Linked DNA regions of Homo sapiens. The protein of the gene in region 2 interacts with the protein of the main gene of each other region in a pairwise test. Each region holds a gene or a part of one and is shown on either strand. Other genes may lie near its edges.

The links.
Region 1: the proteins of G6PC1 (region 2) and SNX13 interact in a two-hybrid assay, tested with the Homo sapiens proteins (one large-scale study listed by BioGRID and IntAct).
Region 3: the proteins of G6PC1 (region 2) and CDH16 interact in a two-hybrid assay, tested with the Homo sapiens proteins (one large-scale study listed by BioGRID and IntAct).

Annotation. Positions count from the first base shown.
Region 1 is NC_000007.14:17,934,063-17,944,207, reverse strand, and holds the start of SNX13 (sorting nexin-13), read left to right. Parts: upstream 1-3,713; 5' UTR 3,714-3,912; coding exon 3,913-3,924; intron 3,925-10,145. UniProt on the Homo sapiens protein: May be involved in several stages of intracellular trafficking. May play a role in endosome homeostasis. Acts as a GAP for Galphas.
Region 2 is NC_000017.11:42,893,357-42,903,601, reverse strand, and holds the start of G6PC1 (glucose-6-phosphatase catalytic subunit 1), read right to left. Parts: upstream 2,804-10,245; 5' UTR 2,726-2,803; coding exon 2,496-2,725; intron 1-2,495.
Region 3 is NC_000016.10:66,913,462-66,923,650, forward strand, and holds the start of CDH16 (cadherin-16 isoform 1 precursor), read right to left. Parts: upstream 5,425-10,189; 5' UTR 5,343-5,424; intron 4,618-5,342; 5' UTR 4,605-4,617; coding exon 4,560-4,604; intron 4,265-4,559; coding exon 4,181-4,264; intron 2,969-4,180; coding exon 2,813-2,968; intron 2,743-2,812; coding exon 2,604-2,742; intron 1,941-2,603; exon of another isoform or gene 1,918-1,940; coding exon 1,759-1,917; intron 952-1,758; coding exon 755-951; intron 153-754; coding exon 30-152; intron 1-29. Other genes in the region: RRAD (GTP-binding protein RAD), read right to left, coding at 8,615-8,892, 10,055-10,189. UniProt on the Homo sapiens protein: Cadherins are calcium-dependent cell adhesion proteins. They preferentially interact with themselves in a homophilic manner in connecting cells; cadherins may thus contribute to the sorting of heterogeneous cell types.

The DNA.
Region 1 (10,145 bases), on a different chromosome or scaffold from region 2:
TAAGACATCAAAAGATTAAATGACACAACTGTTTGCTAGATGCAATTTGCCTAGGAGGTTAAAGGCATACTTTTCCTGCTTCTCAAAAAGCAATTAGAGCCAATTTGTGACAACCTGAATATGTAGAAGAAATTGTTTTTGTTTCAAAACTAAAAAACAGGCAACTTGGATATTCCGAATTTTTGCTTGTAGGTTTAGAAATCACTGGCAGTGGCTTGTTTAAAAGCATCTTACGGCCGGGCGCGGTGGCTCACGCCTGTAATCCCAGCACTTTGGGAGGTGGAGGCGGGCGGATCACAAGGTTAGGAGACGGAGACCATCCTGGCTAACATGGCGAAACCCTGTCTCTACTAAAAATAAAAAAATAAAAATAAAAAAAATTAGCCGGGCATGGTGGCAGGCGCCTGTAGTCCCAGCTACTCGGGAGGCTGAGGCAGGAGAATGGCGTGAACTCGGGAGGCGGAGCTTGCAGTGAGCAGAGAGCGCCACTGCACTCCAGCCTCGGTGACAGAGCGAGACTCCGTCTCAAAAAACACACTTGACTTTTGCCTCTTACCTCTTTTTGTCATGCTTTCCTGTGTTAATCAGACAGACTGGACACTGCTGCTGAGGAATCAAACCTTTTGCAGTAACAGTCACAGATGCATCCCTTACGATAGCTTGCTTTGTTTTAATTTCTGATAGCCAAAGAACCAGGCATCTCAGATCACCCTGTCCCAGGTTTCCTCTGTAACAACTGATATGAATAGGATGTTTTTAAGACATGGAATCTGTATCAAATTAGGTGCTTTTTTTTTTTAAGCTAGCTGTTTCTATAAGCATTCTCTTTTCCAACTATATAACTCCTTAATTTCCGTAAGTCTCTTAAATAGTATACCTTATTCGCTTTGTTGCTTCCCTTCCTAGGAAATTAACTTTGACTCATGCCCAAGATGTATTTAAGAAAGTGAAGGAGGCCAGGTGTGGTGGCTCATTCCTGCAATCCCAGCACTTTGGGAGGTCAAAGCCTGAGGATCTTTGAGGCCAGGAGTCCAGAGACTAGTCTGGCAACATAGTGAGAACACATCTCTACAACAAATTTAAAAAAAGGAAAAGAAAAAAGGTGAAGGAAAAGGCATAGCTCACAATTTTGTCCTAAACTTTTCTGTAGCATTCTAGTGGAAGTAACAATTGTCATACACTTCAACATTCCAGTGGCAGAAGTGATGTTCCTATTAATTGGAAGACAAGAGAACACACAATGGCCAACTTTTAAATAATTTAATCTTTCAACACCAAGGATTTTGTTTTTAAATAGTTTTAATTAGGTCTTTTCCTTTTAGTGTCTTTTAGGCAATGATTCACCCATTCATTTATTCACTTAAGAAATATTTATTGAGCATCTACTCTGTGCCATCTACTATTCTAGTATTTTAGGTACTAAGGAAACATTGAACAAAATGAAAAAAAAAAAATCCCCGATCTTGTGGAGCTTACATTCTAGCGGAGGGAAGGCAATAGAAAATAAAAATAGAAAATGACGATGTTAGAAGGTTAGAAGGTAAGTACTATGAAAAAAACAGAAGCAAGGAAGGGAGGATTCTGGGGAAGGGGCAATATTTTAAATGAGATGATTAGGGTAGGCTTCTTTGAAAAAAGATGACTTTTAAGCAAAGATTGGACAGAAGTGGAAGATCTAGCCATGCAGGTATTTGGTGGAAAGATCTTTGCAGATAGAAACTATACACAGTGTAAGGGCCTCAGGGCAAGAAGATGCCTTGGTGTTACAGAAGCAGGGAGCAGGTCTGTGTAACTGGAACAAAGTGCTTAGCAGAAATGAGGTCAGAGGGGTGGAGGTGAGGTAGGACTTGGGAGGCCAGCTAGCATAGGATTTTTAGGTTGCAGAAAAGACTCAGGCTGAGAAAATTAGGAAGCCATTGGAAGAGCGACTACTTTTGGTTTCCTTGTAAGTCTGTAGACAAACTTCTGAAAGTTAAAGGCATATTCATGTCATATCACAGATTGGTTCAATACTCAAGTGTCAACACTTAATGCCTTGCTTCTAGAAAAGATAAAAAGATGTAGTAAATAAAACTGAATACTCAAGCCAGACAACTACATTGCTGTTTTAATTTACTAGCTGGTATCTTAAATATTAATGAACCTCCTTCTCTGTTTTCTTATTTACAGGTTGGAACACTATCTTTTTCCAGGTTCCTTGTTGTCTCTAGTATCTCTTGGTATCCTTTGATACCTCAGTCCAGGTAGGATTTCCATGCTCATTTTCTATTTGTGGCTTCATCTGTCAATACCAGTAACACATTTTATTGTATTGCAGAGGTCAGAATTTTGCTGGTCCAGCAATGTGGAAATGATGTACAAAATGCAGATTAAAACAACAAGAAAAACTACTTTGCTTCAATTAGTTGAATTGAGCAAAATCAGTTTTTCTTGAATTTTTTGCATGACTGCTTAAATGAACCGTTTTGTTTCCTTGACACGATAGAGATAATACAAGGTTTGCAATGCCCTTATTGTTTTGAGACTGTAAGAGTAATACATTAAGTAAATTTCATTTAGCACAACAGTACTATTGTTAAATGGAGGGAAAAGATTCTGGTAAAAGGGAAGAAACTCCTGGCTTTAGTTTTCTAAAATGCTTTTGTACCTCTTGTAAGAATGACATGGAGGTGTTTTTAATGTCAAGTCTGAAAATTTGCTTTTCAATTTACTTGGAAACTGGTTTCTAATACAAAACAGGGTAGCACACTTTCCCAGCATGTTCAGGTAAACTACTTTCATCACAATTCAGGTAGAAGTGACTGCCTTTAATTCCGTACATCGCAAACCATCTAGTGGTAGATCTAGAATGGCGTCAGTCTCAGGGACTTCTATGCACATTGAGTTCCAGAGTTCAATTCCATTTAAGTTGGGACTATTTACAATGACATTTGCTGAAATTTGCTCACCTTGATATACAAGCATATTGTATTAAGCAGCTAGTAAACCTGTGGAGATAGCAGGTAAAACGTAAAGCCTGTTTTACGTTTTTTTAGAGGTGCATTACTTGTAGCATAACTAAACCTTCATTGTTAGGCAGGTGCTGGCCAATTACATCAGCAAGTCCTAACTCCGCTAGGATCGGGGTAAAGCCGATAAGCCGCATCATATCTACAACCTGTCTCGGACCCCTGTAAAGAACTCACTGAGGATTGGTAGGGACAAAGGGAAGTTTCTGTCAAAGTTTAGGAGAAAAGGGCCGCGCAGGGAGCTGTTTCAAATAACACTTAAATCCCAGGAGAAGAAAGCCGAACCCCAACTCTTCGGTCGCCGCGGGGCCAGGGAGACGCGAGAGGGAAGTTTTTCTAAAGGAAATCTGCCGCCTTGTCCCCAAGACCAGCGAGGTCCGCAGCGCCATCAGTCAAGTGTCGGCCTCTGGCATTTTCTCCTCTCCCCAGGGCGGGCCAACGCTAGTGGGCGGTGGATGATGCGCCGGCCCCAAGGGCGCGCACGTCCATTCCCGGAAGGCTCGGGCGCTGGGGCCCCTCTGCACTCCCAGCGGTCCCAAGTTGGCCCAGGCGCCCGGTCCCGGGGTCCTACAAGTCAGCGCCAAGCCGACTGCCGACAGCCTACCTCCGCTTCTCCGCGCGCCGGCGCTATGGAGACGGTCACGAGACGCCAGCAGCCCCTGCGCCCGCCAATGGGAACGCACGTTGCAGCGAGACGCGGACGTCGCTCTTCCAAGATGGCGGCGCGTCCGTCGCGAGCGACCGGGCCGAGGGGAGGCCAGCGAAGCCGAGTAAAACCGCCGCCCGGGAGAAGACTGAAGGAGCAGTTGCCGCCGTTGGCGGCGGCCCGAGCAGTTTTCGCTGCTGCTACGGCTGTTGCCATGAGGCGAGGCTAGGGAGGACCTCACTTCCCCGGGGTGTAATAATGTTAACTGAGGTAAGCGGCGACGGTGGCCAGTGTTTACCTGTGAAATGGGGAAGGGGCCGGCGCCAGCCCGTCAGAGAACATCATCTGTACGGAAGGTGGGCCTGACCCTTCGCCGTGGGCTCCAGGGCCCGAGGAGCAGCGGGGATCCTACAAGTGCCCTCAGAGTAGGAGCTGTGCTGACTCAACAGAGTCCCACCACCTCCGGCTGCCAGTGCCTCGCCTTTCGCAGTTGCCACTTGCCACTCGCCCCTGGCACTGGTCTCCCTCCTGCTGTCACTCCCTTCTAACTCATCGCTCCCTTCTTCGTGTCCCCTTACACGCTACTCTGTGGCAGCGTTGGCCTTTCCACGTTACTGCTGGTTCTTGTGATCCTATGGTTTGCCCTAGGTCTCCTTTCTCTGGTCCCTGGGCTCCAGGGCCCTCCGCCTCCGAGCTCGGTCAGCACCCTGGGGTTGTTGCTCGGCCCGACCGGTTTGTTTCCCACCCTCTACTTTGACTGCTTCATGAAGTGGACTTTTTTATCTCAAGCTGCACATGTATGGCTCAGTTGGGTCATCCCCCTCCCCCACATCCATCACCTTTTCGGTTAAATCGTGGTCATCACAAAGTTCAGTTTAGCATCTGCCACCTTGATTTGCGTGTGGCCCCCTTGTTACTCCCTATGGAATAGTTTTTTTCTTTGGACCTGAAATGGAAGTAGGGCAACTATGACGAACCAATCAATTTCCCTTTTCTAGTGCCTAATGGGCATTGCAAAAAGCCGACTTTTTGAAGAAGTAGAGTTTGCCTTTACTAGCAACACTTTAAGGGGAAGAACTAAATCGGTGCAACTAGGTACTTGACCCAGGTTAGCCCAGTTATGTGTTGTAGTATCTGCAGGTGTAGGTGTCACTGAACATAAAATACTGAACCTTGTGATTTGATGAAATACCTTTTTCGAAGCCTTTCACTTTAAGTACTGTGAGGATCCTGACGTGAGGAACTGACCGGATTGGGCATTTTTATGGGCTGAACTGAATAGGAAACAGTTTTAGTGGGCAATGGGAAGTATTCCTACATGGGCCAAAAAGGAAATACAAACATTTGTAGGTGAGTGGCTTTTATTTTGTGAAAAGTGATGGTAAAGCACGTACTTGCCTGAAATTTCAGGTCCTTGGAACGTGACTAACTTTGAGGAACTTTATACTTTGCTGTTTGTACTTAATCTAAGCACAGAGCCTGGCATATGATAAATACTTACTGGTTGATTGTAACTTCTACAGTACGTATTTTTAGTTGTTTGAAGTTCATTTTATATTTCTAAATTCTACAGATTTTTCATTCTTGGAGTTAATTGAGATTATGGTTATAGCATAAGTTTGTGTTGTGATTAGCAGTAATAGATTAGAAAAAAGAGTTATAAGTAGCAGAAGTTTCATTTTTACCTTAAGTGTGATATTTTAGTGGGAACAGTTAGCCTTATAATAAGTGTTTAGTGTTGTCTCTAATGTGTAATATTATATGATATGATCTTTTCCTTAAACTTAGCTTATGTTAACATGTTTCAGAGTTTTAATACTTTCAAATGAACTACTTGTGTGTCTGCCAGTAAAATGATTTGGAAAGATGGAGCTTTCTCAGCTTCTGTATTTTAATGCAATTTTGCGTTTTAGGGAAATATTTTAAACAGTAAATCAATGATAATATTAAGTAAACTGTACTTTAGTACTTTTTGTGTGAACACTGCACAACTTATAAGTGGCAGAAGCAGGATTCCAACCTTGGCAGTTGCCACCTAGCCCATTCTGTTAACTTTTCTAGATTGCCTCGCCAAAGTAAGACCCAGATTAAATTGTACTAAAGTCTTCCCTATAGTTTTCAGTAGTCGTTTATAGATTAGGAAACTGAAGCCAGAGACTCTTGTCCAAGGTCAATTATTAAATATTAGTGACAGTCGAAACTGGAATCTCATCTCCTAACTCTCAGTAGAGAGCTCTGACCGTTTTGCTCAGCTGCCTCTCAAGTAGTTTTCAGCTCTCTTGATAGATTTTAAAACATGCTATTGTACTTCCTTGTCTGAATATTGTCAGTAAACTGAAAATGATTATTACTTAAAAAAGACTTTCTGCTTTACCTTAGCTTTTTTTCCTTTTCATTTTTTAAACAAGGCTTCTAAGCCTCGTAAACTAGTCCTATTTTGAGATATTTTAGATATAAAATTTCACTCAATATTGGCTACTACAAAATTAGTGTGAGACTTCCTTTTTATTGCTTCTGCTAGACATTGCTGACTTAGATCAGCAGCTTTTAGGAGATGTGATTTAATTCATGTTAGGTCTCAAAATGTGTAGTGATGAGCTGTGCTATGAAAGATTCTCCTGTCTTTATATTAGTCATGCTCAGCAAGCATTTACTGTGCTCAGAAAGTGGTGAATTGTAGTATGTGCCTGGATTCTTTACATCTCAACACTGAGGTAGGTGATATCCCCATTAACCAATGATAAAACAGGTTGAGAAAGTTGAAAGAGCTTACTTAGAGTTGTATAAAGAATGGAGGAGACAGAAATCATATTTAGGTCCTCTTATTCCACATTGTGTGCTTTTTATGACTCAGTGTGGAATGCATCATTAATTTTCTTTGTAGCTGATAAAATCAGCATACTATTTTTATTTTTTTTTAACCAAGGTGAGGATACTAAGTACATAGATACATAATGAGAATAGTAATGATAAGTGTTCATATGAAACTTTTCAGTTTTGCGTTTTGTGAAAATATATCTTTTTTTTTTTTTTTTTTTTTGAGACGGAGTCTTGCCCTGTTGCCCAGGCTGGAGTGCAGTGGCGCGATCTTGGCTCACTGCAACCTCCGCCTTCCAGGTTCAAACTATTCTCGTGCTTCAGCCTCCCAAGCAGCTGGGATTACAGGCGTGAGCCACTGCACCGGGCCAAAAATATATCTCTAATTGAAACCTTTTCAGAAATGAGAAGCCACACAAGTGATCAATTAAGGACCATTTTATATTAAGCTAAAATGGAATATCACTCAGTTGAGCAAACTAATATGTACATTGAACTTTGAGCCTATGAAATATAGATTAATGTAAATTGAAAGTATAGCTCCCATATAGTTCTCGATGTAAACTTTTTGGCTTCAATTTATATTATTTTATCTTAAATACAATGGAATTATTTAGAAAACTTGCTAGTCATATTTATGTATGTATTTTTTTTTTTTTTGCATTTTACATACAGGGATGAGCTGTATGTAACGTCTAGCTAGTTTTTTTTTTTTTATTTTATTTTATTTTTTTTAATGTTAGTTTTTTTCCCCTTCTGTTGTCCTTGCTCCTGTTAGGACTTCCTGCTTCTAATGTGACTCCTGCTATACTTGGCAAAAAATTTGTCATAGTGTACATGAAAGTTACTTGTTTAATATTCACTCCTCACTCTCCCTCTATCCCTTCTTTTTTTTTCTTTTTTTTTTTCTTTTCCCCTAACAGTAAACTTCATATATCGAAATTAGAGCATGGGATGTTTGTTTACCTGAGAATTTGTTTTAATTAATCCGAGTTTTCACAACATTAGAAGATAATGAAATATTTATCAGTGAATTTTTATCAAACACACTTTTAAACTTTTCTTGATACCAGGAGCAATTAGGATTATAATTCTGAGCATTTATTATTACAGAAAACTAAAGGTAAGAAATGTGGGAAAATGTGCTGAATACATTCCAGTGTTGTGGCATACTTTGGAGGTTGTTTTTGCATGGAAACCAGTTATCAACGTGTTGTCACTTGTCCTGTGTTTTAAAAAATAATAAACAGTGTAGCTATTTAAAGCTATTAGTTGTTTGAGTTGTCTGTAAATATGAATCATTAAGTGACTATTAAATAAAAATAGTTTCTATTTGTGTTGTTACTTCCATCCAGATTTGTTGCTTTTTCAATATTAACACTGATTCTCAGAGTTAACAGATCTGATATAAATGGGAAAAGGCAAAAAATGCAGCACTTTGAGAAGTTCCAGGTTAATAGTTGTTAAGTAAAAGGTTTTGTAGTTGAAATAAATTTGGAGGATATTTGCCTAAAGAAAGTTAATAGGTTTCTTCTCTGGATGACTTAACATAGTTAGTTTTTGATAGGTGATTTATTTTCAAAGAAGATGATAGAATTTACAGCATATTGCAGAGTCATTTAACCATGGAGGTGAATACACTTTCTTGTATTTCACTTAGGGAAATCCTGGAGTGATGAGTTACGTATCAAGAAAGGCTCCCTGAACATCCAGGGGTCCTTTTGAACACACACATGCACATACATCATACATCCACGCTCACACACAGTTGTCTTGCCCATAAGTGCTTAGTAAAATATTATGACTTGGTTTTGTTGATTAATATATTTGTAATAGAAATACTCTTGGGGCACATTAATCTTTAAGCTATATAAGCTATTTCTTCAATTATTAATGACACTGCAAGAGCTACTAACCAAAGCAAGAAGACCATAGGTCCACTGGCATTCAGAGGTGTCAAGAGGTAGGAAAGGGATTTTATAACGGGAGTGGAAGGACATCAGTATCTAAAATGAGTTTGGCTTGCCACTCTACACACAGCCTTACTTGGCATCTTTTGACAAACCAAGAGGAATATTGATAAACATTCTTAAAGAATTTTTTCTTTTTAAATATTATTTTAATTGACAGTCATTTTTATGCATTTATGGGGTACAGGGTGATATTTTGAAATGTGTGTACAATGTGGAATGATTAAGTGCAGCTGAATAACATATCACCTTGATTATTTTCTATGGTGAGACAATTGAAATTTAGTTATTTAAAAAATAAAATACATGATTGTTGACAGTTGTTTAATTGATCTAAAAATTTCTTCCTTCTATCTATCTGAAACTTTGTACTCTGAGCAGTATATCCCCATTGCTCCCTCTTCTCCAGGCTCTGGTATCTGTCATTCTGCTGTCTACTTCTGTGAGTTTGACTTCTTAAATTTCACATATAAGTGAGATCGTGTGGTATTTGTCTTCCCATGCTTGGCTTTTTTCAGTTAGCATGATGTTCTCCATGTTCGTTCATGTTGTAGCAAGTGACAGAATTTCCTTCTCTTTTAAGCCCAATTAGTATTCCATTGTATCTACCACCTTTTCTTCATCTGTTTATCCATTGATGGACACTTAGGTTGATTCTTTGTCTTGGATTTTGTGACTAATGCTGCTGTGAACCTGGGAGTGCAGATATCCTTTCAACATATTGAGTTCCGTTTTTTGGAAATATACCCAGGAGTGAGATTGTATGGTAGTTTTATTTTTAGGTTTTTGAGGAACTTACATACCATTTTTCATAATGTTTGTATTAATTTGCATTTCTACCTACAGTGTACAAGAATTCCCTTTTCTTCACATTCATGGCATCACTTACTCTCATTTTTTTGATTATAGCCATTCTAACAGGTGTGAGGTGATATCTCATTGTGGTTTTAATTTGCATTTTCCTAATGGTTAGTGATGCTGAGCAGTTTTTCATGTATTTGTTGGCCAGATTTATGTCTTCCTTTGAGACATGTCTATTCAAGCCCTTTGCCCATTTTAAAAATGGTTATTTTCTTGAAATTGTGTTGAGTTCCTTTTATATTTAGTCTGTTAACCACTTATCACATGTATGGTTTACACTTTCTCCCAAGTTGTGGAGTGGAAAAGTGTATCCCAGCTCTGGTAGATATACCTCTTTCTGTTTTTGTTATCTCTGGGCCCCCAGCAGATTGGGTGGTGCCTGCCCACATGGAAGGCAGACCTCCAGGTAGTCTACTCAGACTCACATGCTAATCTCAGTCTCCTCTGGAAACATCCTCACAGACACATCCAAAGGAATGCTTTACCAGGTTTTTAGGTATTCCTTAATATAGTCAAGTTGACATCTAAAATTATCCACCACAATGACTTTACAGCTTTCCCTGAATGAGGTTCTCAGATTATGGCTTTTTAAACTGTGCTTTGAAATTTTGTGGTTTCATAGACCATGAAGTGCCTCCTCAATTGATTGTAATCTGGAATTGACTTTCTATTTCAGAGTCAGGTTTAATTTTGGTGTCACAAAGCCTTAAATATGTGTAAGGAGAGGAAACGTTGAAGCAAGCAGATAGCTCTTAAACTGTTTAACGTTTTAAAAGTATTTGGAATTAAATGAATAAATAGGCTGGAGTGATAGTGATAAATACTGTGTCTATCAACAAATTA
Region 2 (10,245 bases):
GCTGGGACTACAGGTGTGTGCCACCACATCCAGCTAGTTTTTGTATTTTTAGTAGAGACGGGGTTTCACCATGTTGCCCAGGCTGGTCTCCATCTCCTGAACTCAGGCAATCCTCCCACCTCAGCCTCCCAAAGTGCTGGGATTACAGGCATGAGCCACCGTGCCTGACTGTATGATCTATTTAAACACAAATAATGAAGCCCAAGATTCTGAACTCCAGGCAGGCGCGGTGGCTCACACCTGTAATCTCAGCACTTTGGGAGGCCAAGGCAGGCAGATCACATGAGGTCAGGAGTTTGAGACCAGCCTGGCCAACATGGTGAAACACCGTTTCTACCAAAAAATATAAAGAATTAGCCAGATGTGGTGGTGCGTGACTGTAATCCCAGCTACTCGGGAGGCTAAGGCAAGAGAATCGCTTGAACCTGGGAGGCGGAGGTTGCCGTGAGCCGAGATTATGCCACTGCACTACAGGCTGGGTGACAGAGCAAGACTCCATCTCAAAAAAAAAAAAAAAAAAATCCTGAAATCCATAAAATGGCAGCTATGTGACTTTTTTTTTTTAACCTCAAGAAGTATTTGTCCTGGAAGAATGCATATGGAACTACAGTTTGAAACTTGGACTTGCATATACCATGGGTTCCCTCAGGCCTCAGGGAATCTTGCATTTCCTCTGACATCAGAGAATGCACTCCAGCCCCTAGGACGAGCCCCCCCCAGGGAAACATGGCCTGCATTTCCATCAGAATTGCTCTCTGTAAGGATGTATATAGCTTCAGATGCTTGTTCTGTATCCTCTCTACTTTGAAACAGAGTATCTCAGACAAACCACTTCCCCTTTAAAAGTACTAGATATATCTTTCACTGTGGAAATAGGTGTCAACCGCCAGTCAGGATGCCTTTTATCCCGTGATGGTGGAATAGTGATTTCTCACCGAAATCAGGGAGAGCCACTAACTCTGGCCTCTATCAACCCAGAGAGATTGCATGGTTCTTCAATGGAGATCAGATGTTTGGAATAACACTTCATCTTTTTATTTTTTAGAATCATGCGGCTGGGTGTAGTGGCTCACGCCTGTAATCCTAGCACTTAGGGAGGCCAAGGCAGGCAGATCATGAGGTCAGGAGTTCGAGACCAGCCTAGTCAACATAGTGAAACCATGTCTCTACTAAAAATACAAAAAAAATTAGCTGGGCATGGTGGCGGGCACCTGTAATCCCAGCTACTTGGGAGGCTGAGGCAGGAGAATCACTTGAACCGGAGAGGCAGAGGTTGCAGTGAGCTGAGATTGCACCATTGCACTCCAGCCAGGCAACAGTGCGAGACTCCATCTCAAACAAACAAACAAAAGAAAGAAAGAAAGAAAGTGGCCAGAATGGGAATGTTTACGTGATAGAAATTGGCAAATGCTAAACTCAGGGCTTTCCCCTGCTCCCCAGAGAGTCAGTTTATCAGCACTGGACGTAACATAGTTCATAAGAGCATTGCCGCGGAAGCCAGCCTGCCTACCTGGGCTTCCATCCTGGCTCGGCATGTACTAACCTTGTTGGCCTAATCATTTAACTCAGCACCTTGGTCTCTGCATCTACTGTTTCTGTAAATAGCAGTAACTACCTCACAGAAAAGCACATAGCACATGGACTGGCACACACTGTTTAATAAATGTTAACCCTGATTATTATTAAGCTGCCAGAGATAACCTATTTGTAGATTATAAAACAGAAACTCAGATAATTGATATGACTTGCCAAGGACATGTAGTTGGTGGGTGGCAGAACGAGGGCTGGAGCCCAGTTCCCAGGGTGACTTTTCATTACCCCACAAAACAGGCTGTTGAATCATCTGTGTGTTTCCTTTTTTCATACAGCATACATCATCTATCTTTTTTTTTTTTTTGAGACAGGGTCTTACTCTGTTGCCCAGGCTGGAGTGCAGTGGCATGATCTTGACTCACTGCAACCTCCTCCGCCTCTCACCTCAGCCTCCTGAGTAGCTGGGACTACAGCACCAACACGCCCAGCTAATTTTCGTAATGTTTTTGTAGAGATGGAGTTTCGCCATGTTGCCCAGGCTGGTCTTGAACTCCTGAGTTCACCCAGGAGTGATTCGCCCACCTCGGCCTCCCAAAGTGCTGGGATTACAGGTGTGAGCCACCATGCCTGGCCCCATACATCTTTCTTTATGTTACCTCTTCTGCTTCATACTAATAAAACTCTTTGCTCAAAGCCTATATAACTCAGACTTTTCACGAAATTCAACTGTCCTACCCTTTAACCCATATGAAATAGGCTTTCCTGTATTTTCAACTCACTGGTAGGATTTTTTCTGTCTTCCCCCTTTATGTAGATGATCCAAAGTCAGAGAGAGGGGTTGGAAGCATGAGTAGCCCGTGGCTTCCTGAATAGCCTGGGGAAAGCAACTTCTGATGGACAGACATTGCGAGAGCGAATGCCAGCCTCTTTTCTTGCTGATCTCCTCTCTATATGGTTCTTACCACTTAAAGACGAGGTTGAGCCAGTCTCCAATCACAGCTACCCAAAGGAGTTTAATGCCCACAGCTTCCTGAAGATGGAACCAGATGGGGAAGAGGACGTAGAAGGCATTCCTGAGGTCTGCGATCACGGACACCAAGATGAACCAGTCCTGGGAGTCTTGGTAATTCACCTGGAGGTAATGTGTTGACTGGATCCCAAAGTCATGGAGAACATTCATTCCTTCCTCCATCCTCATTTCCTTGGCACCTCAGGAAGATGTCAGCAGAGCCCTTGCAGTTATTCCAGGCTTGGTGGTGATTGCTCTGCTATGAGTCTGTGCCTTGCCCCTGTTTTATATGCCCTGTATCCAGTATTCAGGTCAACCCAGCCCTGATCTTTGGACTCAAAAACCACGTTTGTCTAAAATGTATTGATCAAAGGTGCATCACCAGTAGGTTGATGCAAACATGTTCAGGGTGATTTACGTAAAATAGAAAAACAGGCACACAAAAACAGCCTGATCGGCCATGTACTCAGCAGGGCCAATGATTAACTTTGGCATGCTTCTTGGCAGTGCAAGGGTCTGCCCTCCTGGTCCCCGAAACCAGGCCAGAGACACAGGACAGAGTCTACATCCACGATGATTCTTGCAAAGATGTCAGATTTTCTATGCCTGCAACTGCACTTATTTGGGGACAAAGAAAAATCTTGGTGCTCTAGCTATTCAAGTTTTAAGTTCTTAATTTTAAAATTAGTAAAGTTCTGGCTGGTTGTGGTGGCTCACACCTGTAATCCCAGCAATTTGGGAGGCTGAGGTGGGAGGATCCCTTGAAGCCAGGAGTTGGAGACCAGCCTGGGCAACAAAGCAAGACCCTCGTTTCTACACAAAAATTTAAAAAATTGTTTTGGTGTGTGTGATGGTGTACCCTTGTAGTCCCAGCTATTCAGGAGGCTGAGGCAGGAGGATTGCTTGAGCCCAGGAGTTGGAGTCTGCAGTGAGCTATTGTCCCACCGCTGCACTACAGCCTGGGCAATCGAGCAAGACCCCAGTCTCTAAAACAAAACAAAACAAAACAAAACAAAACAAAAGAAAAACAACAAATAAAATATAGTAACTTCTATTGTATTGGGGACTATCATCTTGCTGGTCTTTCCTTAACTGTATTAGAGTCTAGGGTCTGCCTCTGGTTTGGGAGATCAACCCCCTTCCTGGTATTGGCCTCATGTCTCTTAGGGCCAGAAAGTAATCGTTTTTGAATGCAGTGATTAATTCATTTAATGACCTTAAAGTTACAGCCCTTGGTGTTGTTTTCTTTTTTAAATTTTCTCTCTCTTTTTTTTGAAACAGGGTCTCACTCTGTCTCCCAGGCTGGAGTGCAGTGGCATAATCACGGCTCACTGCAGCCTCAACCTCCTGGGCTAATGTGATCCTCCCACCTCAGCCTCCTGAGTAGCTGGGACCACAGGCACACGCCACCATGCCTGGCTAATTTTTCTATCTTTTGTAGAGATGGGGTTTTTCCATGTTGCCCAGGCTGGTCTTGAATTCCTGAGCTCAAGAGATCTGCCAGTCTTGGCTTCCCAAAGCTCTGGGATTACAGGTGTGAACCACCATGCCTGGCCAAGTGTTTTAACTCATACGTTTAAGCAAAATAATGAATGTATAGTCTTACTGTGCAACAATATGATGAATGTATGGTTCCAAATAAGAATACCAGCAAAATGGTAACTGGAGACTTAAAGAGTTTGAAACTTTCAGTTATTTTTGAAAAAGGGCTTCTATATCTTGAGCTTTCTTATACATATGTGTGTAGATATACAAAAGAAAGCTCAAGATACACTGTGTGTGTGTATATGTGTGTGTGTGTGTGTGTGTATACTATATATCAGCCTACAAATAGTAGAGAGACCAAAACCCTAACACTTGGGTCACGGAGGACTGTGAAAGGAACCAGGGAATGAATCAGGTAACGAACTCATGCATTTTAAAAAATAGGGCTATTTAATCATGCTTCATATCACTATTATTTATTATTTATTTATTTATTTTTGTAGAAACGGGGTCTCACTATGCGGCCCAGGCTGGTCTCAAATTCCTGGCTTCAAGTGATCCTCCCGCCTCAACCTAGCAAAGCATTGGGATTACAGGCATGAGCCACTGCCTCCAAATTCATGCATTTTTTGAGGATAAGAGCCAGGGGGAATAAAATGTTTAAAAACTTGCCTGAATTTCCCATCATTAAGTCCATATTGACATGTAAGGGGTAGCTGGGGACAGAAAAAAGAAACTCAGAGCTAATGAATCTGTGGCAAAAGTTGACAGCATTCCATGCTGGAAATGATTAAAACATCCTCCAGGAGGTATGACCTGGAGTCTCCTCCCCACCCCACCAAGGGCTCGCACCCAGCCCATGCTGACTCCAGTTGTCCTTGACTGCATGGTTTCTGCTGGTCCAAGCAAACTTCTCCTGCCACGCCTAACCTTGGAGAGCAGGTAATGTGTTGGTGACTGTGGGTGGGTGTAAAGTAAGCCCATGCGTGGCAGGCAGTGCTGGGGCGTGGGGTATATGTGATCTGCACTGTCAGGGCTGCTGGGCCATAGGTAGGGAGCCTCCCTCTACCCAGATAAGCCTCTGTTGTGGAGTAACTATTGCAGTGACCTCTGGGATGAGAGTTTCTATGGTCAGAGGTGAGTCAAGGTGAGTCTAAAAACATATACAAAGGCCACTGTCTGGGTCATGCCAGGGCAGCTAGCAGCCAGGGTCTCTGAGTTGGGAGGGGTTCTATTATGTGGTCAGCATATGGGGAGGGCCCTGTTTTCTGAGACGCCTCAGGAAGAATACCCCTATGGATAAGGAGTTGATAAGTGATGGAGTTGACATCCCACTCTGGGCATCCAGGGACAGTGGGAGTCTTCCTGGCGGTGGGCCACCAGGCAGGGGGACCCTCTGGATCAGAGCAACCTCATAGTCATGAGACGATGAGCTGGTCCTCATCTTTCCACCTGCCAGCCCCTTTCTGCTTCCTCCAGCACGTTTTTATCCGTGGGAAAACAGGTGAGGCCCCAGCTTGTTAGAAAGCTGACTGCATCGAGACACCGTGGATTCTCAAAGGTCTTGTGGATATATGAGGCGAGTGGCTAGAAGTTTTGCTGAGAATCCACTCATTTATCTGTTTATTTGAGACGGGGTCTCACTCTGTTACCCAGGCTGGAGTGCGGTGGCACCATCACAGCTCACTGCAGCCTCAGTCTCCTGGGCTTAAGGGATCGTTTTGCATCAGTCTCTGGGTAGCTGGGCCTACAGGCGCACACCACCAAACCCAGCTAACTTTTTATTTTTTGTGGAGATGGGGGTCTCTCTACATTGCCCAGACTGGTCTCAAACTCCCGGCATCAGGTGGTCCTCCTGCCTTGGCCTCCCAAAATGCTGGGATTACAGGTATGAGCAACAGTGCCCTGCAGAATCCACTAATTTAAAGAACTATCTCCAGAGAGGGGTTCCCGCCATCTCCTTCTAACTCTTTGTTATTTTCCCTTTTCAAGAAGTGCTCCGGTTTAATTCAACCAACATTTCCTGAGCAAAGCACCATGCCTGGCTCTCTGAGGAATTAAAAGTTAAAAGCCAGGCTGGGCATGGTGGCTCACGCCTGTAATCCCAGCACTTTGGGAGGCTGAGGAGGGTGGATCACCTGAGGTCAGGAGTTTAAGACCAGCCTGGCCAATATAGCAAAACCCCATCTCTACTAAAAATATAAAAATTAGCCGGGTATGATGAGGGGCACCTGTAGTCTCAGCTACTCGGGAGGCTGAAGCAGGAGAATCACTTAAACCCGGGAGGTGGAGGTTGCAGTGAGTGGAGATCCTGACACTGCACTCCAGCCTCAGTGACAGAGCGAGACTGTCTCAAAAAAAAAAAAAAAAAAAAAAGTTAAATCCCAGGTGTCCTCCAGGACCTTGGTGGTCTAGTGGGACAGGGTGACCTGACATTTACAAAACTATGTAAACTGGAGGATCCTTATGTGAGTGACTACCTACAAGTTCGCTGAAAAGTCACTGACATAAGGCAGATTAATTAATATGAGAAAAAGATTACAAATGTATTTAACATGTATACATGGGAGGCTTAAGAATGAAGATCCAACTTCCCAGTGAGGTATGGAAGCTCATCCACCATCTTGAGGTTGCAGAAAGAATGGGTGGCTTGGATCCTGTTAAAAACAGGTTATGGGAAGGAGGAGAAGAGGAATTCTGTCGAAGGGCAGAGGGAGAATGATTGGATCGAGGAACAGAAATTAACTTGTAAATAGTTCTCCCTGGATTTTAAATGGTCCTCAGAGACAGTCATTGTCTTGAAAAAGGGTCTGTTGAGACTTTTTTATGGTTACATTTTTGGTCTTCTTTTCTGTGATGGATAATGGGATAAAGGAAGGAGAAGAACAATTGTTCTTTTGTGTCAGTCCTTTTTTTTTTTTTTTTTTGAGACGGAGTATCACTCTTGTTGCCCAGGCTGGAGTGCAATGCGATGATCTTGGCTCACTGCAACCTCTGCCTCCTGAGATCCACCGATTCCTGTGCCTCAGCCCCCCAAGTAGCTGGGATTACAGGCATGTGCCACCAGGCCCGATTAATTTTTGTATTTTTAGTAGAGATGGGGTTTTGCCATGTTGGGCCAGGCTGGTCTCGAACTCCTGACCTCAGGTGATCCACCCGCCTCGGCCTCCCAAAGTGCTGAGATTACAAGCATGAGCCACCATGCCCGGCCAGTCCTATCTTTATAGGTGAAAGATAGGGGAAAAAATCTCTTCCAGGCTCCCAAGGGTGAAAAAACCTCTCAAGGGTTTTTTATTTAAAATAGTCACGGCCTGGTGCGATGGCTCACACCTGTAAACCCAGCACTTTGAGAGGCTGAGGTTGGTGGATCACTTGAGCTTAGGAGTTTGAGACCAGCCTAGCCAACATGGTGAAACCCCATCTCTACAAAAAATACAAAAATTGGCCAGGTGCAGTGGCTCACGCCTGTAATCCAAGCATTTTGGGAGGCTGAGGTGGGTGGATCACCCAAGGTCAAGAGTTCAAGACCAGCCTGACCAACATGGTGAAACCCCATCTCTACTAAAAATACAAAAATTAGCCAGGTGTAGTGGTGGGCGCCTGTAATCCCAGCTACTCAGGAGGCTGAGGCAAGAGAATCCCTCGAACCCAGGAGGTGGAAGTTGCAGCGAGCCGAGATCACACCATTACACTCCAGCCTGGGTGACAGAAAGAGACCCTATTTCAAAAAAAAAAAAAAAAATAGCCCAGTGAGGTGGCTGGCACCTGTAATTGCAGCTACTCGGGAGGCTGAAGTGGGAGGATCACTTGAACCCGGGAGGTACAGTGAGTCGTGATCGTGCCACTGCACTCCTGCTGGGCAACAGAGCGAGACCCTGTCTCAAACGAACAAAAAAAGTACTTATTATATTGGGAGCCATAGTTTGGGATGAAATATTTTGATTTCCTTTGTAGAAATATCAGTGAGTTCCCTATTATTTTGTCCTCGGTAGAGAAGATTCGTTAACACCCTCTAGGGAAATGGCCAGCTGAGTTGGGGAAGGAATGAGGATGGAAAATCATTTGGGCTCCTCTTTGGTAGGTACCCAAGCAAGCCACTCCTCAGGCATTTTCCCCACAACTAGAAATCCAGAGGCTTTGGATCTTGAGAAGAACATGAAGGAAAGATGCCAGGAAGTACAGTCTGGTCTGCTGATGAGTAAGTGCAGCTGGGCCCAGGGCCCTGGCACATTCTCCCAGGGCAAGGTTGACTCATTCACTCGAACAAGTTTATTTGCAGACGAGAAAGCAAAGAGGGAAAAGGAGCTGTAACTTACCACACACCTCATCCAAAAATTGCATTTACTACCAAAAAGAAAGTCTGATTTTACCTGAAGCTGTATCTTCTATTCTGGGTGGGGGCTCTGGATTCTGTTGAGAGAGGAGCCACCTTTCCTTTACTCAGTTATCATCCTACAATAGGTTTGTTTTGTTTTGTTTTGTTTTGTTTTGTTTTTGAGATGGGTCTCACTCTGTTGCCCAGGCTGGAGTGCACTGTTCCCATCAATGCTCACTGCAGCCTCGACCTCCTGGGTCCCAAGCAATCCTCCCAGCTCAGCCTCTCCAGTACCTGGGACTACAGGCCGGTGCTACCACACCCGGCGAATTTTTTGTATTTTTTGTAGAAACAGGGTCTCACTTTGTTGCCCAGGCTGGTCTGTAACTCCTGGGCTCAAGTGTCCTCCTCTGTCAGCCTCCCAAAGTGTTGGGATTATAGGTGTGAGCCACTGTGCCTGACCTAGAATGGGTGTTTTCTACATACTATAGATGGGATTCGAAACCTAGCTCCAGTTCACAGCTTCGTCCGAGCAGCAGGGCTACAGCCCAAAGTGCAAAATGTACAGTTTTATTTTTGTTTTTAATTACTTTTCTTTTGTATGCTTTTTTTTTTCCCTACCAAGTGATCAATGGAGGAAGTGTTTCATGGTGGACATGGGAAACTGGCCAGATCAACTGCTGTCACCTTCTAAGTGAGTGACCCAGTTTATGTTTTAGAAAAACATGTTGAGAAAAACAGGTGGAGGGAGAGGCGGGTTAATCATTGTTCGCCAGTGCAAAGGGCTGGCTTCTCTCTGGCACAGTGAGAAAGTTCAGCTTTAGGACCTTGAACTGAGCAGGTAGGGGAAGCGTGGAGCGTGTCTCAGGATGGGCTGCACATTTTGTGCACAGAAGAAAACCTGAAGTCATTTGCCGCATTGTAAACATCTCAGAACTCCCCACTAGATACCTTCCTCCTGCCATCCCAGGGCCTGCCTTCTTCCAAAATCAAATGAGTCACCAGAACCTTTATGGGAAGCACGAACTGCCCTTCCTCTTCTTCACCTCGCTCTTCCTTAGCCCCCTTCCCAAAAGAAGCTGTTGTTCCCTCCAGGAAGTAACCTGTTTCCACGAACATTTAACTAGTTCCCTCACAAACAGATGGTAGACTTTTCTGGTTTTGTTTTGTTTTTTGTTTTTTGTTTTTGTTTTTGAGACAGAGTCTTGCTCTGTTGCCCAGGCTGGAGTGCGGTGGCGTGATCTCAGCTCAATGCAACCTCTGCTTCCCAGGCTCAAGCTATTCTCCTGCCTCAGCCTCCCGAGTAACTGAAATTACAGGCGCGTGCCACCACGCCCTGCTAATTTTTTGTATTTTTAGTAGAGACGGGGTTTCACCATGCTGGCCAGGCTGGTCTCAAACTCCTGACCTCAAGTGATCTGCCTGCCTCAGCCTCCCAAAGTGCTGGGATTACAGGCTTGAGCCACCGCGCCCAACCTCTTCTCCCATTCTTAATCAACCCTTTGCAGTGCCAAACCACCTTTGCAGTTAGAAAACATTTTTGCTGTCAAATTTCATCCGTCCTGCCAGGAGTTAAACTTTGTTGATGGCGCACTACAGAGGCAGAGGCAAGGGAAGGAAGTTAAGAAACATTCTTGCTGTCAAATTTCATCCTTCCTGCCAGGAGTTAAACTTGCTGATGGTGCACTAGAGAGGCAGAGGCAAGGGAAGGAAACCTGCAAAAGTGTGGCCAGGACTATTTTTAAAAGGCTTTCTTTCCCCTTGGTCCTGGTCTGTATCCCAGAGGCAAAGAAGGGCTATTTGAGGAGAGAAGGGAAGTGTGACTTGAGCTAAGCCCAAACCGCTGTCCCTCCTTGCTTCAACTCAAGGATTCTTTGGAATAATTGAGACCGACTAAAGAAGG
Region 3 (10,189 bases), on a different chromosome or scaffold from region 2:
CTGCATCCCTGGCTCCCCCTTCATATCACCTCAGCCTGGGCTTCTCTGTCCAGCTCTCTGGTCACGTAGAGGTTTCCCTCTGCATTCACTTCAAAGGGTCCCGGGGGATGGCTCTCCAGGTGATAGTGCACATCACCCCCACTCCAGTGTACCTGGGGGGGACACCCCGGGCCAAGGGGCAGGAACAATCCATGTCAGCCTTTGCGCCCCATCTGATTTCTCGTTGAGGAGCCTGAGCCCAACTGTGTGACCCAGGCAAGGTGCTGCCCTCCCTGGGCCTGGAGTCCAGGTGGGATCCTTCTGTTCAGGGCACATGTTGTTAGTGGCCTTGCCCTGATCCAAGCCTGGACCCTGCCCAAAGTGCTTGAGTGACCATGTTACTTTATTTTCTGCCCTCTCAGCCTGGGCCTGACCCCAGGGCATTCCTAGAAGAGGCCTGAGACATTCCTGGCCCGGGGTGACAATCCCCATGGCAGCAAGAGATGGCAGCTGTTCTCTCTGAGGAAGCCCTGGGCAAGTTCAAGAGGTCAGAGCACAGAGTCACGCCTGCTAGAGGATGGCAGAGCAGGCGAGGGGCTGTGGGCCTGCGTCCAGGGCCTTGAACACCCCAGTCCACAGTGGGAAGTAATGGGAAGAGTGGAGGGAGGAGCACGGGTCATGAGGGTTCCAGACCCAGCCCCCAAATATCCATGAGACTCGGGCCTGGCTGCACCATCCATGGGGCTGCTTCAGCCACTGACAGCCACTTACTCACCTGGGCCATGTGGTGCGGGTATAGGACTTTGAGATTCTCTGCCAGGTGGATAGGCTCTAGGGACACCCAGGTGCTCTCTATGATGGAGACTTCCACGGTGGCAGTGGCCTGGTGGCCTGAGGCCTGGTCACCCATGTCCTTGACCTGTACCAACAGCTGGTAGGTCCTCTCCAGGGCGTGGTCAAGGCTGGTGCTCCCTAGAACAGGGAGGATGGTCAGCTGAGCAGGCAGCCAGGGAGCAGGGGCCAGGGCATCATTCTCAGCAAGATACCAGACACAAAACCAAGCATACAGCAGGTGATTGGGACACTCTCTTGGCCAAGGGAAGAGAGGAACTTTAAGCACTGTTGTGAGCCTCCAACAAGGACATGACAGTTTGCAAAGCCACCTCCATATCTCTCCACACAACGAATGCGTGATAGACTAGAGAGGTAGGTGGATGACCAGGATGAGGAGATGGGTAGATGGCAGATGATGGGTTGGTTGGATGAATGGGTGGTTGACTTGGTAGGTGGATGGGAGTTTGAGTGTGTGAATAGGAGAGTGTTTGGATGAGTGATGGGAGGTTGGATGGACTGTGTAGGTTGTTGGGCGGTAGACGGGTGAATGCGTGGCTGGCTATGATGATGCCTGATTCACTTTTCTTTCCAACCCTAGTTCATGCCTCTGGTCTGAGCTTCCAGGTCCAGGTCTCTTCCGCCATCAGTCGCAAGGTTGCCCAGCAGCATCTTAGGCTACAACCCCTTAGACTGTTCCTATCTTTGTCCCTTAGGCCCAGGTCTCCGTGGAGTGTGGAGCTGAGGCCCTCCATTCACACCATTTCCTAGCTCTCCATGCCTGGCCCTGCCTCCACAGCCCCCTGCCTTGTTGCTGTCTCCACCTAGAGTGCCCTTCCCTCCCTTTTTACCTCTCAAGCTCCCACCCATGCTTGTCTTATGGTTCAGATACCACCTTCTCCAGCTTTCTCTGACCCTCCCTCCCCAGCACACCCCGCTCGGGCTTACCCTTGGGGCTGAGGGCCAGAGCCCCCAGCCGAGGCTCCAGCTGGAACATGTCTGGGGAAGGCTGGGCTGGAGCCTGGCTCAGGATGTGGAATCGAAGATCCGAGTTGGCTGTGCCTGGCTCATCCCGGTCTGAAGCCTCAAGGAAGAGGAAGGGGATGCCTGGTTCACGGTGGGAGGGCAAACTGTAAGGGATAGAGAGGGTGGGGAGAGTCTCCCATGCCTCTCCTATTTCTCCTCTGTCCTTTCTTCCCTATCCATTATCACATCAGGACTCCGGAGATGAGCCACGGCTTTTCGTCCTACTTCCCAGATGAGCAAACTGAAGCCAAGAATGGATGGCACCCTCAGTGGAGTAGGGAGGAACAAGGTGGGACAGAAATGGTACAGGATGGGCCAGGTGCAGTGGCTCATGCCTGTAATTCCAGCACTTTGGGAGGCTGAGGCAGGCAGACCACCTGAGGCCAGGAGTTCGAGACCAGCCTGGCCAACAAGGCGAAACCCCGTCTCTTTTAAAAATACAAAAAAAATTAGCCGGGCATGGTGGCGGGTGCCTGTAATCCCAGCTTCTTGGGAGGCTGAAGCAGGAGAATTGCTTAAACCTAGGAGGTGGAGGTTGCAGTGAGCTGAGATCGCGCCATTGCGCTCCACTCCAACCTGGGTGACAGTGAGTCTCCATCTCAAAAAAAAGAAAAAAAGAAAAGAAAAAAGAGAAAAGAAAAGAAAAAAGAAATGGGACAGAAATGGCTGCCCTGTCCTATGCCAACTGTCTGGCCATCTCTTCGCTCTCTGCTGTTCCATCAAGGCCCACCTGACCTTACTGTAAATTGGCTGCCCTGGTCACTCACCAGGCCTGGTACCCCGGCTCAGCCGAGCTCTGTAGATGGCTTGAGAGAAATGGGGCACCTGGTCATTCTCATCCTTCACGTGCACAAGCACAGGCTGTGGACCCCACAAGACATGTCCATCCTGCATCTCCAGGGTGACCTGGCAGGGAAGGGGAGTCAGCGTCTGGCTCTGCCTTGCCTGCTCTCCCCTACACCTGGCCCAGCCATACCTGTAGCTGGTACTCTGCCTGCTCCTCTCGGTCCAGGGCCCTGGTCACCAGCAGGAAGCCAGAATCTGGATCCATAGCAAATGGGCCCTCAGTTGCCTTGCCTGAGTCCCCTGACAGCACGATCTGGCCTTCAGCCCCCTCACGGGGCAGCGGCAACTGATGGAAATGAACAGAAGTGAAGGGAGCGGTGGCCAGGCCTGGGAGATGCCCCTCCTCCACCTGATGGCCTCATTTTACATGTGGGGAAACTGAGTCTCAGAGACATCTGGCTCCTGTCAGAGGTCACACAGCCAGTAAGCATCAGGACTGAGACTCAGAGCCAGAACTCTTTTCCCTGGACCTGATGCTCCCCAAAACTCTCTGCCCTTCTTTCTGAAGCTTGAAACCTCACCACCGAGATTTCGTTCTTTAATCTAAAGCTCTGCTCTCCACTAGGATTAAAATCTGTTAGTCATTCCCACTGCAGGTTGAGCATCTCTAACCCGAAAATCTGAAATCTGAAATACTCAAAATCTGAAACTTTTTGAGCGCCAATATGATGTGACAAGTACAGAATGCCGCATCTGACCTCATGTGACAGGTCACAGTCAACACATAGTCAGAACTTTGTTTCATGCACAAAATCATTAAAAATATTCGCCCAGGAGCAGACTCACACTGGGCTCTTGGCCACTCAAGGATTCTGTCGGAATTTCACCTCTGTACTGTCAGCTCCTTCTGGCCATAGCCTCCCCAGCTCGCAAATCCCAAAGTGGTAATCCCAGCACTTTGGGAGCCCAAGACGGGCGGCTCACCTGAGGTGAGGTGTTCAAGACCAGCCTGGCCAACATGGCGAAACCCTGTCTCTACTAAAAATACAAAAAAAAAAAAAAAAAATTAGCCAGGAGTGGTGGTGCATGCCTGTAGTCCCAGCTACTCAGGAGGCTGAGGCAGGAGAATCTCTTGAACCCAGGACGTGGAAGTTGCAGTGAGCTGAGAACATGCTACTGCACTCCAGCCTGGGCGACAAGAGCGAAACTTCGTCTCAAAAGAAAAAAAAATGTATAACGTTACCTTCAGGCTATGTGTATAAGATGTATATGAAACATAAATGAATTTCCTATCTAGATTTGGGTTCCATTCCCCAAGATATCTCATGATATATATGCAAATATTCCAAAATCTGAAGAAAAAAAAAAATCCAAAATCTGAAACACTTCTGGTCCCAAGCATTTCAGATAGGGGACACTCAACCTGTGTAACGTGTACATACTCTCTGGAAAGCAGGATTTCAAAGAGAAACAGCAAGAGGAAGGGTGCCAGAGGAAGGAGAAGCAGGACTTTGCGGGGAGGGATCCCCCCGGCCCCAACCCCAGCTCTCCGGCTCACCTTGGTCAGGTATAAAGGGAAATTTCCACCATAGTTTTCTGGAACTTCCACAGACAGCTCTGCAGGCTGGGCCTTGGGGAGAGCCTGTGGGAGGATTCTCACCTTGTCACCAGGCTCTATCTTCCTGCGTGGGCACTGAGACCCAACAGAAGAGCGGAATTTCCGCCCCTTCCCAGGGCCTGGCTGTACCTTAGTCCATCCACCCGCGCTCTGGTCTTTGACCTCCTCATCCCACAGTGGCTCTATAGTCCCAGCTCTGACCCCTCCCATGCCTTGCACCGTTCTCACGGTCAGTGCAATTGGTCCAGGTGGAGTTGGGGGCAAGGGTGTCAACCCCCAAAGCCAAGACCTGAAGGAGAGGGGGCAGGGCCTAGCTCACCTGGGGGACGGAGACACAAAGCAGCCACAGCCAGGCAGGGACCATGGTCAGGACAGGCCTGAGGGACACGGCAGTGAGGATCCAGCCCAGGTGGGTAGGGAGGGGCTTTCCATCCCACACACACAACTAGTGGGATCGTACTGCAGACTAGTCTTCTCTTCCTCCCCTCCAAAGGAGCTGAGGCTCTCCATCTCCTGCAGGGTAGTGCCCTGCTCCTCGGCCAGGCCCACCAAGGCCCCCAGGCCCAGCCACCCTGCTTCTAGGCTCTTGGTCCATCAAGCACTCTATCAGAATTTCACCTCCAGACCTCCAGCTCCTTCTCACCATAGCCTCCCCAGGCCGCAGATCCCAAAGTGGTAATTTTCTAGCAATCCCCCAAATCACAAAAGTTTGAAGCTGGAAAGTTCCTGAAGACTTGGAGGGTCACTTCCTGAAGTCACCTCTTGTTGCAGGCAAGGCCTGAATGCTGGGGTCTGGCCAAGGTCACAGAGGACTTGACCACAGGAGGAGTCCTCCTAGCTCAGGGCCTCTGGGACTGTCCTGCCTCCCACTGCCACCTTCTAGACAAGGAGAACCCCCGGAGCAGGAGCCCGGCCCTTGTCTCATCATTTTCCAGCCCTTGTCATGGAGCTGGGCAGGCAGAGCAGCGACAAATCGACAACCCCTCTAAGATGAGGCCCTGGGAATTCTTTCCCAGATGGCGAGGACAGGGCAGTGTTTCTCCTTTCCCCACCACCAACCTCAGCCTCAGCCATGCCCTCCCCTCCACTCCCAGCCCCTCACCCTCCAGCGCCCAAGACTGGCTCCCTTGGTCCAGCTGCCAAGCAAGAAGAGAGCTCCTTCTCCAGGGGGCTCTGGCCAGGCTGGGCTGGGTGGGGCAAGGCAGGGCACTTGAGCAGGTAGGAGGGTTCAGCCACGCTTGCTCAGGAGTGGAAAAGGCCACTGGGCCCACAGCAGCAGGCCTGGCCCCGCCCAGCCCCCCAAGTTACTCATTGACTTTGGAAAGCCAGGAGCTGCTCAGCATCCGTGACTGCCAGCTCCAGGAGGTGGGGAGATGGTTGGCCTGGCACTCCCTCGACCCCAGCACAGCCCAGGAGGTATTCCTTGGCCCTCTGGTTCTGGACGTTACTTTTTCTGTGGCTCCAGACTTGGTCTGACTTATCTCCCAGGCTCCAGTGTCTGCAGCCACACCTTTTCACACTCTGTTCCTTTTGCATGGAACACCCTTCCCACTCATTCATCTGTGTGGTAAGCACCTGCTCATGCATGCTTCAGTGCTCAGCTCAAATATTCCTTTTTCCAGGAAACTTCCCCTATGTTCCCAGGCTTGTTCAGGAGCCTCCTCTGGGAATGCCCCTCCCCCTCACACCATGCCATGTGCTATCTCTATTAATACACAGAGGACACCAGCTTGTCATTGTCTGCCTCTTCCATTAGATTGGGAGCCCTTTGAGAGCAGAACTCAGGGACTCAGGAATGACCTGGCTCTCATTCTGCCCTGGCAGCTCCGCATGGCTTGTGGAACTAAGACAAGGAGCTGGAGGTTGCAAAGGATGGGTGAGCAGTACATGAGTGGAAGTGGGTATTGGGGCTCCAGACCACCCCCCCCAGGGGGACCTGTGGTGGGGGAGTGCAGCAGCCTATGAGCTCCCGAAGTCCTTACACTGGCCACTCAACAGTGACAGGGCTGAGACAGTGGGCAGTCTCATGCCCCTAAGAAGATTAAACTGGCTCAGGTGACCTTGAGGGAGTTGCAGGGCTGAACAGGGGCTCTCCCCGCAATGAGGGCAGCCAAGCAGAGCCAGGAGATGCTTCTGGGGCCTGGGAGTCTGGAATGAGGGGAGAGGGTGGGAAGAAGGTCTCCAGTCCCTCTCCAGCCTTGGAGCTTCCCATGGTCCCCACGAAGTCCTTCCCACTGTACATCTGATTAGTCTCTCTCAGGCCAGAAGCTACCCCCAGCTGCCCCCAGCCTTGTCACAAGCTGAGTGCCTGCTTCAGGGTCACTCTGGCACCCAGCCTGGAGCAGTGTAGTGTGGGGAGGTTGAAGGGGGTTTCACACGTGTTAAGCTCCTGCTCTGTGCCCAGCACTGCTCTGAGCACATACCTTCATTATGCCACATACTGCGTTCTGAAGGGGCATTGGGCACATGCTGGGGCACAGAGAAGCTGAGTGGTTTGCCTAGGGTCACACAGTCAATAAGTGACAGAGCCAGGAAGGCCTGGGGACCCTCACTTGATCTGAAAATACCATGCCTTCTGCATTCCTTGAAGTATGTGGGGAGGAGGGGCAGAGCAGCAACAGCTCTGAGCAGTTACCTCTGCCCTGGGGAGCACGTGGGTGAATCTCAGCGCTCCCCTGTACATGGAGGGGCAGCCCTCAAGCCTCCTCCTGCCATTCAATAAGCTGCAATCAGGATTCTAACCAGGTTGCCAGGGCTCCCTGGAGTCTGTGGAATGAATAAATTGAATAAATTGAACTAAGGAAGGAATGTATGGACCTTGGCCCAGAACCTTCTTAGAAACTGCCCCCCACCTTGCCCCAGGCTGCCTCCAGGCTTTGGAGATGGGCAGACCTGTATACCAGTCCCCACTCAGCCACTTCCCACCCAGCACCAGATGGGGATGGTTTTTCCTGAGACCATGTAGATAAAAACTCTTAGCAGCACTTGTGCCGAGGGTGAGGGAATGAATAAATTGAATAAATTGAACTAAGGAAGGAATGTATGGACCTTGGCCCAGAACCTTCTTAGAAACTGCCCCCCACCTCGCCCCAGGCTGCCTCCAGGCTTTGGAGATGGGCAGACCTGTATACCAGTCCCCACTCAGCCACTTCCCACCCAGCACCAGATGGGGATGGTTTTTCCTGAGACCATGTAGATAAAAACTCTTAGCAGCACTTGTGCCGAGGGTGAGGGAGCCATGGGCATGGGTGGGCAGGGAGACAGGTGCATCCCTAAACATAAGCACGAGTACACCTTCCTATACAAATGCAAGACCTCTCATTCCAGGCAGGGCGGGCTCCCGGCAGCTGTTCCCACCAAAACTGAATTAGCCAATGCTGAGCATGGAATGTTCTGGCCTGGATACTCATGGTAGAGAGAACAGTGAGTGCCTCCTCCGTAGCTCAACCCCAGTGAAGTGGTGGAGGAGCCATGTGGAGCTGTGTGTGCCTTCACAAACCACCCCTCGGAGGTCTCTATCCCCAACCTCAGCTGATTCCAGCCCCTCAAGAGGGAACAGGGCAGAAATACCAGCTGTGGAGCCAGATCCTGTCTGGTTGTGAGACCCAGGGTTCCTGCCTGGTTGTGAGACCCAGGGTTCCTGCCTGGTTGTGAGACCCAGGGCAGAATGTGCTCCCCTGAGCAGCCTGTTTCCCTTTATGGACAGTGAAGTGATTGAACCCTCAATCAGTTGGGCAACGCCAGGCCCCAGTGCAGAAAGAGAAGAATCTGGATAACAGGGACTGGGAGGGGTTTGTGTCTCCTGCTCCTTGAACCTCTAACCAGACCCGATGCCCATCCCAGCTGGCTAAATCTGGACCCTCACATTAACACATCATGGCCACACACTAGGGTGGGGCAGTGAGCCCCCATCCCTCAACTTCAGAAATCCTTCCAGCTCCTGAAGCGCCCAGATAGGAGGAAAGAGAGTCAACAGCCATGACTATCAGGAAATAGCCTTTATTACAAAAATCTGCATGTAAACAAATAGCTACCGCACTGAAGAGCCTCCCTCCAGGGCAGGCACACCCGGGCTGTGAAAAAAGGCAGAGTCCTCTCCCGGCACGCAGGCCTGCCCGGCGGCTGCGCTGCGGCTGCTTGGGACGCATATGAGCCTGCGCATGCATCTCTGTGGGCCCAGCCCTCACTGGCCCCTGAGAGCCACTTCGCAGGGCAGCACTGTCTATCTGTCCATGACCATGAGGTTGGGGGTGCCCGGCTGGCAGCTCCGAGGGACCCAGAGTCTGAGCCTGCTCTGAGGCACCCGGGGCAGTTGGCTGGGCCAGCCCACCAACCCTTCCGTTCGTCTCCCACCATAGTGGGAGCGGGTGGGACCTAGAGAACCGAGAGGTCGTGGCAGGACTTGGATTTGGCGCGAAAGGCCATCTTGCGGCTGTTACGAGCTACGATGCGGCCCAAGAAGCGCTTCGCCTTTTTGCCAAGGCTCTCTCGCCTCCGGGTGCCTGCTTGCCGTCGTGCGTTGGCTTCTTTGCTGTCCCTGCGCAGGCGTATCTGGCGCACGACACCTTCAAACAGCGCCTGGACATTGTGGTGCAATGCCGCTGATGTCTCAATGAACTTGCAGTCAAAGACCACCGCGCAGGCCCGGCCCTCTGTGTGGGTGGGGAAAGGCAGGCACCAGTAAACAAAGGGTGGGTGAATGAGGAGTCCCCTCCAACAGTGGCCACCCATGGAAGCTGCCACTCGAGAATTTGCAAGGTCCTCCCCGAAAACACAGAGACCCCAGCTCCTGTACTGAGGGTACTGGGCACTGCTGCGTCACCCAGTAGGCAGAGTGCCTGCATTTAAGGAGCCCCCAAAACAGTGGCCCTCAAAAGGAGATCCATTTATTGAAATAATTTGAAGCCTGATATTTAAACAAAGTACGACAGTAGTAAACACAGGAAAATGAGAACTATGTTGGACAACTTAGTATTTTATTTTATTTTATTTTATTTTTCTGAGATAGAGTCTCGCTGTCTCCCAGGCTGGAGTGCAGTGGCACAATCTCTGCTCACTGAAAGCTCCGCCTCCCGGGTTCACGCCATTCTCCTGCCTCAGCCTCCCGAGTAGCTGGGACTACAGGCGCCCGCCACCACGCCCGGCTAATTTTTGTATTTTTAGTAGAGATGGGGTTTCACCATGCTAGCCAGGATGGTCTCGATCTCCTGACCTCGTGATCCACCCGCCTCGGCCTCCCAAAGTGCTGGGATTACAGGCGTTAGCCACCCCCTGGCCCATGCCCCGCACAACTTAGTATTTTTTAATTCGAGGTTATATCATGATGAATGATCCAGTGGACTGGGGTTGCGGAGGCAAGGTCACCAAGTCACTGCTGGGTTCCTCTGAGGGGCTCAGTACTGGGGTCCACAGAAAAGGATGCTGAGGCCAAGTGGGAAGGGTCTTCCCCAGGGCCAAGTCTACTCTAAGAATGGCCCAGACCTAGCACACAGGCTCTGACCTCCTGGCCTGTTCCCCTACACTCTCTTCCACCCATTTACCCCCCCAACCAGCCAGGCCAGGACCAAGAGGGGCAGGAGAGGAGGGCCCTGCGGTGCCCAGCTCCCCTATCAGATTTGGTTCTTTCCCCAGCCCTCTGGGGCCTTCCGGAGCCCTGTGAGCAGGCACCAGCTCTCTCCCATTTCCCTCCCCGCCAGTTTTCTTTCTGAACATTTTTAGCCTCTGATGATCCCCAGGGACTCAAGCTGAGCCAAGACTGCCTGGATCAGGGCCCAGCTGGGCTCTCCCTCCCCCTGCAACCTGCCGCCTACTCACCATCCACCGAGACCTCACGAGAGCGCACCAGGTCGCTCTTGTTGCCCACGAGGATGATGGGCACATCATCTGTTTGCCGTGCACGCCGCAGCTGGACCCGCAGTTCTGAGGCCTTCTCGAAGCTGCCCTTGTCCG